Linked DNA regions of Homo sapiens. The protein of the gene in region 2 interacts with the protein of the main gene of each other region in a pairwise test. Each region holds a gene or a part of one and is shown on either strand. Other genes may lie near its edges.

Region 1 (3,141 bases), on a different chromosome or scaffold from region 2:
CCTTGCTTCTGTCTTCTCTCTCCTGTACCCATCCATCTCCTTTCTCCCCTAGCTGTGACTTATGCCAGCCACCTCTCCATGCCCTCTCTTACCTGCTGAACTCTGGGGGTTGATGGCATGGGTGTGAACCGGGTTTTAGGTTGAACGGTGAGACGCCGCAACACTGAATATGAGGTCTGGGGAGAGATGTGGGTGGCTGAGCAGGGACAAAACCCAGACATAGCAAGGATCTCCGGCCAGACTGTTCTGCCCCTGCCCAGCCCCCAGTTGTTGACACAAACCAGAGTTGGAGGGCCTGGGGAGGGTACACGCTGAGCCCGTCCAAAGGGTGATGGACATGGCACCACATGGCCAGGCAAGGGCTGGGCCACAGGGGCAGGGGAGGGCATCAGGTGGGAGTCATGGCTGTCCTGTGAAGAAGAAAAAGGTGGAAGAGTGATCCCCGCCCCCTTTGTCTTCCTATTTTTTTTTTTGATACGGAGTCTCGCTCTGTCACCCAGGATGGAGTCCAGTGGCGCGATCTTGGCTCACTGCAAGCTCCGCATCCCGGGTTCACACCATTCTCCTGCCTCAGCCTCCCGAGTAGCTGGGACTACAGGTGCCCGCCACCATGCCCGGCTAATTTTTTGTATATTTAGTAGAGATGGGGTTTCACCATGTTAGCCAGGATGGTCTCGATCTCCTGACCTCGTGATCTGCCCGCCTCGGCCTCCCAAAGTGCTGGGATTACAGGAGTAAGCCACCACGCCTGGCTGTCTTCCTATATCGTGTTCTCACTACAGCAGCCAGTGTGATTCTTTTAAGACCTAAGTCAAGCCGGGCATGGTGGCTCAGGCCTGTAATCCCAGCACTTCGGGAAGCCGAGGAGGGTGGAGCACCTGAGGTCAGGAGTTTGAGACCAGCTTGACCAACATGGAGAAATCCTGTCTCTACTAAAAATACAAAATTAGCCAGGCGTGGTGGTGCATGCCTGTATTCCCAGCTACTCGGAGGCTGAGGCAGGAGAATCACTTGAACCCAGGAGGCAGAGGTTGCAATGAGCGGAGATCGTGCCATTGCACTCCAGCCTGGGCAACAAGAGTGAAACTCCATCTCAAAAAAAAAAAAAAAAAAAAAAAAAAAGACCTAAGTCAAATCATGTCACTTTCTTGATCAACCCCTCTCCCCATGGCTTTCCACTCATTCCAAGACAAGCCAAAGACTTACACTGGTGTACAATTCCTTACCCAATCTGATCGTGTTATCGCTAAAACCCTATCTCCTACTGTTCTTCTTACTCTGCTTCAATCTCACTGGCCTCTCCTTTTTGCTGATCCTCAAACACACCAGGCACATTCCCTCCCCAGGGCCTTTACCTCTTCAGTTCTCTTGGCCTGGAATGTTCCTTCCCCCAGATATCAACATATCTCACTCCTCCTCCAACCCCTGGTCTTCACTTAAACATCATCTTCTCAGTAAGAGTTCCCTGACAAATCTATTTTAAATTGCAATACCAACTCCCCTGCTCCCAATTCTCCTTTAGTGCCTTATTATTATTATTATTATTATTTTAGAGAGAACTTACCATCATCTGAGACACTATTTATTTTATACCTGTGTTTATTTCTTGTCTCCCCCTTCTAGAATATGAACTTGTTTACTGCTATATGTCCAGAGCCTAGAACAGAGCCTGGCACTCAGTAGGCTGGTGCTACTCAGTAAATATTTGTGGAGCCAAGGGATGAATGCTTTTGGCTGACAAGTGTCAGATCTGTCTCACCCTTAGCACTGATCTGATGGTGATACAAATATGACCTCTCACCCTAGGCCCCAGACATCTGATAAAGAGAGGTCAGTCTCACATTGGAGAGGGACTGGGTGCATCTGGGGTAAACCTACCCAGTAACATCCTGAGGCCCAGGACTTCCTGGCTCTACCTACAATTCTCAGTGTTGGCTGCTGCAGCAAAATTCTTCCAAGCAACTCCTGCACCTCCCACCCACCATCCCAGGAGAGTCGCATCTCACCCTGGTATGTGACATTTCTCGGTTTTCTCTTAATGGTACTCGCTGGGCCAGACCAAGAGAGGCCACACCTCCTTCATCTGAGTGAGTGACAACCTCGCGTTCTCCTTTAGGAAGAGAGAAAGCTAGGAAGAAACAGGACATTTGTTGTAGACTCTAGAACACCCACCAAAGTTTGGCACAGTGTTCTGCAACTTCTGAAGAGGGTATATTAGTTTAATAGGCCCCATTGCACTATTAGGGACAGGAACCCATCCAGCAGCCCCTCAACACCCAACACTATCTCAGTAAACACTTATTAATCTGAACGTCTGAGTAGGCTGGGGATGTGGTGATGGCACTTAGGGGCTGGGGATAAACAGTGAGTGGAAGATAAATCTTGCAGGAAGTGGCAGAGAGAGGGCCGAAATGGAGACCATCTCCTTAGACAAAAGTGCAACTGTGCCAATCGCTGGCCTATCTAGAAGGTCTCTTCTCCTTCTCCTTCTGACCTAGCCTCCCGGCCTCCCACTTCCTCATGCTCCCTCCCAGCCTGCTGAGTTTTCTCTGGTCTTGTTCCCTGCTTCAGGCAGCCCAACTGCCCCTGTTCTCTCCCCACGCCAGAAACACTTACCAGGCTGGACTGGGGTCTCCAGGAGCAATCCTGAGGCCTGGCTCACTGAAGTCCTGATGACAATAAGGACATTAGCCAGCAGTCACTGAATACCAAGTATGAGCTGGACATGTGCTAAGTGCTTTACAAACATCATCTCATTTCATTCTCATGACAACTAATGATGGTACAAATGTTATTCTCACTTGACAAAGAAACCAAAGCTCAGAGAGGTGAAGGCAAGCTTGCACAAATAGTAAGTGTTAAGAGTTAGGATATAAACCCAAATCCCACTTATTGCCACAGTCTATACTCTAGCCACTAAACAAAAGAGATAGCACATTTCTGTCCTCCCTGTCCCCCCATGACTTGAGTAAACTGATGTCACACTGAGGCCTGGCTGTGAAAGCCTGAACCCTATCCCAAGGGCTCATCCCGGGTAATCACAGGTTTCTTGCTTCCCCTCCTGAGTTGGTGGGGAGTCCTAAAGCTCCTGGAAGGCCCCAACTCTGGGGGACTCCTGTATCAGACACTGGTTCATTCTTT
Region 2 (3,309 bases):
CTGATCTCCACCCCCAACCCGGATCCTGGGCCCTTCTGGGTCACCAGGCAGAGGCTGACATTCCATAAGCCCTATACCATCGTCACTTTTAGTGGCAGCTCATACAGAGCTGCAAAGTTGAAGCCTTCCACCTCCATCCTCAGCTTTAAGAACAGAGAAGACAAAAACTTAGCGAGGCAGCACCCCTGGCTCAAACCCAACCCAACTTCACCCTGTTCACATCTGGCAGCTTCAAAATGGGCCCTGCCCCTCAGGCTTCACCCTTCCCATCCTAGTGGGCAGTATATTCACACCCCCACCCCAAGCATTATCCCTCAGTTCCCACGGCTCCTAATAATCCCATCCCAGCCAAGCCCCGCCCCTAAGCCTCCCGTTGGCTCTGCCCCACCCAAACTACTAGCCGTGCTCCCAGGACCGGGCCGCCCCCTACCCTCTGGCCAAGCTGGCAGGAGCTGCCGAAGTCCACAATCTTGATGGCGCTGCGCTTGGGGTTGCACAGCAAGATGTTTTCGGGCTTGAGGTCGCAGTGAATGATGCTGAGCTCAGGCGTGGCCAGAAAGAGCAGTGCCGTGCAGAGCTGCTGCGCCAGCTTCCGGGTCAGGTTCAGCGAGACGCCGCGGAAGTGGGTGTTGCGCAGGAGGTCGTACAGGTTGTAGGACAGCAGCTCAAATACCAGGCACAGGTGGTTCCGGAACATGAAGTGCCGCTTCAGGTGTACTGCGGGGGAGGGGAGGAAATGGGCCAGAGAAGAAACGGCTCAGAGAGGGCAGGTGGTGGCCTGGGGTCATACAACGCTCTTTGATTACTAGCCACATTGTGCTGTCCCCACGGGTACCATCTGCTAGTCAAAATCTTTTTATCTAACAACTAGATTCACACAGGAAGTTAATGCTCTTTCCAAGTCTCTGTCAAACCCTCCAATTAAACCAAAGAGAAAGTTTCATTAGTTACTACTAGCTCTAACACATTCTACACTTCCTCATTTAATTTCATAACACTGCTTTCATCTCCCTTGTATTCATTTTTGTGGCAAAGGACACTGGTTTTCCGTTTACTTTAAGGATATACGTTTTCCTTTCAAACGAAACCATTTTAAAATCCACTTGCTGTTTATGATTATGTTGTGATGTTTATGTCCATGAGCAGGAATCAGTTTAAGGGAGGAGAAAGACTGGCACAGATGTTAAGAGTAACAGCTCTGGAGTCCACGACCTCATCAAATTATAGCTCAATTAGTACAAACTGCCACCTCATGCAAGTGACAGCACTTGAATGCCTGAGTTTCTTTTTTCCTTTCTTCGTTTTTTTTTGTTGTTGTTGTAACTGTTGTTGTTGTTATTAGGTTTGGTTTTTTGTTTGTTTTGGGTTTTTTTTTTTTTGAGATGGAGTCTCGCTCTGTCATCAGGCTGGAGTGCAGTGGCGTGGTCCCAGCTCACTGTAACCTCCGCCTCCCAGGTTCAAGCGATTCTCCTGCCTCAGCCTCCTGAGTAGCTGGGACTACAGGCGCGCACCACCACATCAAGCTAATTTTTTCACATTTTTAGTAGAGACGGGGTTTCACCATGTTGGCCAGGATGGTCTCGATCTCTTGATATCATGATCCGCCCACCTCGGCCTCCAAAAGTGCTGGGATTACAGGCGTGAGCCACTGTGCCCAGCCCGTTTTGTTTGTTTTATTGAAGAAGAAACTAGGATGGAAGCCCAGGTTTCTTATCTTCAAGATGTTGTTAATAATGCCCTTCCCCTTATGGGCTGTGGTGAGTTAACTTCCAAGTGCTTCCAAGAGAGCCTGGCCCTTGGTGAGCACTCAGTAACCTCTGACCATTACCAAGAAAATAGGACAAAAATCATAAAAGCAGCAGGAGAATCACTGATGTCAGAGAAGCACAGACCAAACCCTGCTCTGAAGACATCAGCCTCCTCCTGAGAGTAGGGCGGGGGTGTGACCCATCCCTACTGGCTCCAGCTCCCGCTATCCCAGGTGCCCACAGCCCTGCCAGTCCCAGGCCTCACCTATATAGTACTTCATCTCCGTGTCATGCTGGTTCATCAGCTCCAGCAGCCGCAGCTCAATCTGGGCCTGGTTCAGGAAAGCCTTTTTGTTCTTGATGATCTTGATGGCCACAAGCTCCTGGGTCTGATGATCATAGGCTTTCACCACCTGTTGGGGCAGGGCATGTCACGAAGAAAGGGGTGGGAGCAGGGCAGAGCCAGGCACCATTCTTCTCCCTCCAGGCAAGGAGACCCACCAAGAACACTATGCATACTTCGCAGCTGAGTGCGCACCATTAGTCAGGCGCTGGTGTAAACACTGGATGTGAAATAACATAACGACCTTATGTTGAGTCTTGTTATTTAAACTGTTTTACAGAAAAGGCGACTGAGGCACAGGGAAACTAAGTGGGCTAGGGTGAGTGGCCCAGCATGGGACTTGAAGCCACTGAACCACTGGGTGTGTGATCAATGTTAGTGGGGCCTTGGATCAGGGTGGTGGGGGGTGTCCCACACCTGGCCAAAGGAGCCTTTGCCAATGAGCGAGTCAATTTCGTAGCGCTCCAGCCAGCGCTCGCCACTGCGCACGATGTAGTCATGGTTGTCGTCATCATAACCATGGTTCAGGACCTTCTTCTCCTTCTTGTTGCTCGAATCCTGGGGTGGCGCCTGCTGGGCCCGCCGCTTCTTCTTCGCATAGTATACCTGCCCAGCCAGCCAGCCAGGAGATGGGGACTGGTGAGTGACTCATGCCAGCAGACAAGACCCTCGGCACCCAGCCCAGGATCCCCCAGCCCCTGCCCACCTCATTGATGTGCTTGTAGGTCTTGATGAGGTCCACAGAGAGCTTACGCAGCGGGGCTGAGGTTGCATCCCGGAAGGCCAGGGGCAGCCTCCGAGGCAGTAGCCGCACATCAGGCAATACCTGCAGGGCAGGGTGAGGGGTGGGCACTGAGGACGTGCCTTCACCTCCGACCTCAAGAGGAAGAACTGTAAGGGCTGCTGGCACATCATGTATTTGGTTGCTGTCTGTATTTGTTCCACCTGTCTAGGAAAGAAACTCCCCCAGGGCTGAGACTTTCTCTTGTTCTTACTATACCTCCAGTGCCTACAGCAGGGCCTGGCACACAATGGATGCTCTTAGAGATCTGTGGTGTGAATGAGTGAACTCTGACCTTTCACCCCTCACCTTTACTCCTTTCTGAACCTCAGAGGGAGAGATCATATGGAAAACCTGGGCTCTGTTCCTCCCCATTCTTCACTTTGAAGCCAGCCATTTTGGGTACCCTCTGAAGTACCTCTATCTCAATTTACCCT
Region 3 (3,653 bases), on a different chromosome or scaffold from region 2:
GCCCCAGGTACTTGGGAGGCTGAGGTGGGAGAATTGCTTGAGCCCAGGATGTCGAGACTGCAGTTAGCCTCAATCATGTACTCCAGCCCGGGTGACAAAGCAAGACACTGTCTTACATGAACAAAGAACAAACACCATCCCTCAAGCCTAAATTTAATTAAAAAAAAAAAGTCCTCACTATGAAATCACTTTCGTTCCCAGGATCACCAGGGGAATACAGGTTATTAATTAGTGGTCATCACATAGAGTTTACTGCTATGGAGGGAGCGAGAGCACCTATCTACTTCCTTTATTCTCTATATTACCTAGACAATATTTTGCATAAAATTTACAAAGTTAATGTTAGTTAACAGATTGACAGGTTATAAAATTAGTTTGAGATCACCTGAGATCGGGAGTTCAAGACACAGCCTGAGCAACATGAAGAAACCCCGTCTCTACTACAAATACAAAATTAGGAGCTCTCCCTCTCCCTCTCCCCACGGTCTCCCTCTCCCTCTCTTTCCACGGTCTCCCTCTCATGCTGAGCCGAAGCTGGACTGTACTGCTGCCATCTCGGCTCACTGCAACCTCCCTGCCTGATTCTCCTGACTCAGCCTGCCGAGTGCCTGCGATTGCAGGCTCGGGCCGCCACGCCTGACTGGTTTTGGTGGAGACGGGGTTTCGCTGTGTTGGCCAGGCCGGTCTCCAGCCCCTAACCGCAAGTGATCCGCCAGCCTCGGCCTCCCGAGGTGCCGGGATTGCAGACGGAGTCTGGTTCACTCAGTGCTCAATGGTGCCCAGGCTGGAGTGCAGTGGCGTGATCTCGGCTCGCTACAACCTCCACCTCCCAGCCGCCTGCCTTGGCCTCCCAAAGTGCCAAGATTGCAGCCTCTGCCCAGCTGCCACCCCGTCTGGGAAGTGAGGAGCGTCTCTGCCTGGCCGCCCATCGTCTGGGATGTGAGGAGCCCCTCTGCCTGGCTGCCCAGTCTGGAAAGTGAGGAGCGTCTCCGCCCGGCCGCCATCCCACCTAGGAAGTGAGGAGCACCTCTTCCTCGCCGCCATCCCATCTAGGAAGTGAGGAGCGTCTCTGCCCAGCCGCCCATCGTCTGAGATGTGGGGAGCGCCTCTGCCCCGCCACCCCGTCTGGGATGTGAGGAGCACCTCTGCCCGGCTGCGACCCCGTCTGGGAGGTGAGGAGCATCTCTGCCCGGCCGCCCCGTCTGAGAAGTGAGGAGACCCTCTGCCCGGCAACCGCCCCGTCTGAGAAGTGAGGAGCCCCTCCGCCCGGCAGCCGCCCCGTCTGAGAAGTGAGGAGCCTCTCCGCCCGACAGCCACCCAGTCTGGGAAGTGAGGAGCGTCTCCGCCTGGCAGCCACCCAGTCCGGGAGGGAGGTGGGGGGGGTCAGCCCCCCGCCAGGCCAGCACCCCCATCCGGGAGGGAGGTGGGGGGGTCAGCCCCCTGCCAGGCCAGCCGCCCTGTCCGGGAGGGAGGTGGGGGGGTCAGCCCCCCGCCCGGCCAGCCGCCCCGTCCAGGAGGTGAGGGGCGCCTCTGCCCAGCTGCCCCTACTGGGAAGTGAGGAGCCCCTCTGCCCGGCCACCACCCCGTCTGGGAGGTGTGCCCAACAGCTCATTGAGAACGGGCCAGGATGACAATGGCGGCTTTGTGGAATAGAAGGGCGGGAAAGGTGGGGAAAAGATTGAGAAATCGAATGGTTGCCGTGTCTGTGTAGAAAGAAGTAGACATGGGAGACTTTTCATTTTGTTCTGTACTAAGAAAACTTCTTCTGCCGTGGGATCCTGTTGATCTGTGACCTTACCCCCAACCCTGTGCTCTCTGAAACAAGTGCTGTGTCCACTCAGGGTTAAATGGATTAAGGGCGGTGCAAGATGTGCTTTGTTAAACAGATGCTTGAAGGCAGCATGCTCCTTAAGAGTCATCACCACTCCCTAATCGCAAGTTCCCAGGGACACAAACACCGCGGAAGGCCGCAGGGTCCTCTGCCTAGGAAAACCAGAGACCTTTGTTCACTTGTTTATCTGCTGACCTTCCCTCCACTATTGTCCTATGACCCTGCCAAATCCCCCTCTGTGAGAAACACCCGAGAATTATCAATAAAAAATAAATAAATTTAAAAAAAAAAACATAAAATAAAATAAAATTAGTTTGAGGGAAAACAGAAGTCTCCCAAATGGAAAGACAATTCCATTTTCCAAATGGGAATTTGATTACAAAGCACCAGATTGTTACAGGTTAGGAGTAAAATTCAAGAGTTTGAGTTCCAATGTGTGGTTCCACAACCAAAAGTAAAGAAGGTAGCACATACTCAGAAAAAAACTTAATAGTTCTGGTGCCCAGGTTGGAGTGCAGTGGCACCACCTTGGTTTACTGCAACTTCCACCTCCTGTGTTCAAGCAAGCCACCGTGCCCAGGCCAATTCTGGGTACATTTTTTTATGTCCCTATGTTAACGTGGTCTTAGATAGAAAACTTGTCATGTCAAAGCTCACTTAATTAAAGGTCTAGCAATATATACAGAATAATACTTGTAATTTTTTTTTTTTGAGATGGAGTCTCAGTCTGTCACCCAGGCTGGAGTGCAGTGGCATGATCTTGGCTCACTGCAACCTCTGCATCCCAGCTTCAAGCAATTTTCCTGCCTCTACCTCCTGACAGCTGGGACTACAGGTGCACACCACCATGCCTAGCTAATTTTTGTATTTTTAGTAGAGACAAGGTTTCACCATGTTTGCCAGGATGGTCTTGAACTCCTGACCTCAGATGATCCACCTGCCTCGGCCTCCCAAAGTGCTGGGATTACAGGCATGAACCACTGCACTCGGCCCTATGTTCTGATTATTTCATGTAGATTGGAAAGGCTTACTTGAGTCCATTTCGCCTGGCCAATACTTATAATTTCTTTTTAAGGTGACAGAAGACATTAATAGCAAATCATCCAAAGCTATTTAATGTGGTTTGGATGTTTTGTCCCCTCCAAATCTCATGTTGCAATGTAATTTCCTTGGCTGGGCATGGTAGCTCATGCCTGTAATCCCAACACTTTGGGAGGGTGAGGCTGGAGGATCACCTGAGCCCACCAGTTTGAGACCAGCTTGGGCAACACAGTGAGATCTCGTCTCTACAAAAAATTTAAAAGTTAGCAAAGCATGGTGGTGTGTGACTGTGGGCCCAGCTACTCAGGAAGCTGAGGCAGGAGGATCACTTGAGCCTGAGGGGTTGAAGCTGCAGTGAGTCATGAACATGCTACTGCCTGGGCAAGAGAGTGAAAGCCCGTCTCAAAAAAATAAAAAAGAAACGTGACCTCCAATGTTGGAGGTGGGCCTAGTGGGAGGTGTTTGGGTCATGGGAGCAGATCCCTCATGAATGGCTTGGTGCTCTCCTCATGGTAGTGAGTTTAGTTGTCACTCACCTGAGATCTGGCTGTTTAAAAGTGTGGCACTTCCCACCCTCAATTGCTCCTGCTCTCATCATGTGATGTGCCTCCTCCCCCTTCACCTACCGTGACTGTAAACTTCCTGAGGCCCTCACCAGGAGCAGATGCCAGCCCCATGCTTCCTATACGGCCTGCAGAACCCTGGGCCAAATAAATCTCTTTTTTTAAATAAGTCACCCAACCTCAGGTATTCCTTCATAGCAACGTAAAACGTCCTAATA

What was found.
Region 1: the proteins of DYRK1B (region 2) and TROAP interact in binary tests that used the Homo sapiens proteins (3 or more experiments, as listed by UniProt).
Region 3: the proteins of DYRK1B (region 2) and RBL1 interact in binary tests that used the Homo sapiens proteins (3 or more experiments, as listed by UniProt).

Annotation. Positions count from the first base shown.
Region 1 is NC_000012.12:49,326,196-49,329,336, reverse strand, and holds part of TROAP (tastin), read right to left. Parts: intron 2,670-3,141; coding exon 2,617-2,669; intron 2,129-2,616; coding exon 2,007-2,128; intron 411-2,006; coding exon 282-410; intron 177-281; coding exon 93-176; intron 1-92. UniProt on the Homo sapiens protein: Could be involved with bystin and trophinin in a cell adhesion molecule complex that mediates an initial attachment of the blastocyst to uterine epithelial cells at the time of the embryo implantation.
Region 2 is NC_000019.10:39,827,867-39,831,175, forward strand, and holds part of DYRK1B (dual specificity tyrosine-phosphorylation-regulated kinase 1B), read right to left. Parts: intron 2,918-3,309; coding exon 2,798-2,917; intron 2,698-2,797; coding exon 2,509-2,697; intron 2,162-2,508; coding exon 2,014-2,161; intron 1,937-2,013; exon of another isoform or gene 1,850-1,936; intron 718-1,849; coding exon 431-717; intron 1-430.
Region 3 is NC_000020.11:37,068,372-37,072,024, forward strand, and holds part of RBL1 (retinoblastoma-like protein 1), read right to left. Parts: intron 1-3,653. UniProt on the Homo sapiens protein: Key regulator of entry into cell division. Directly involved in heterochromatin formation by maintaining overall chromatin structure and, in particular, that of constitutive heterochromatin by stabilizing histone methylation.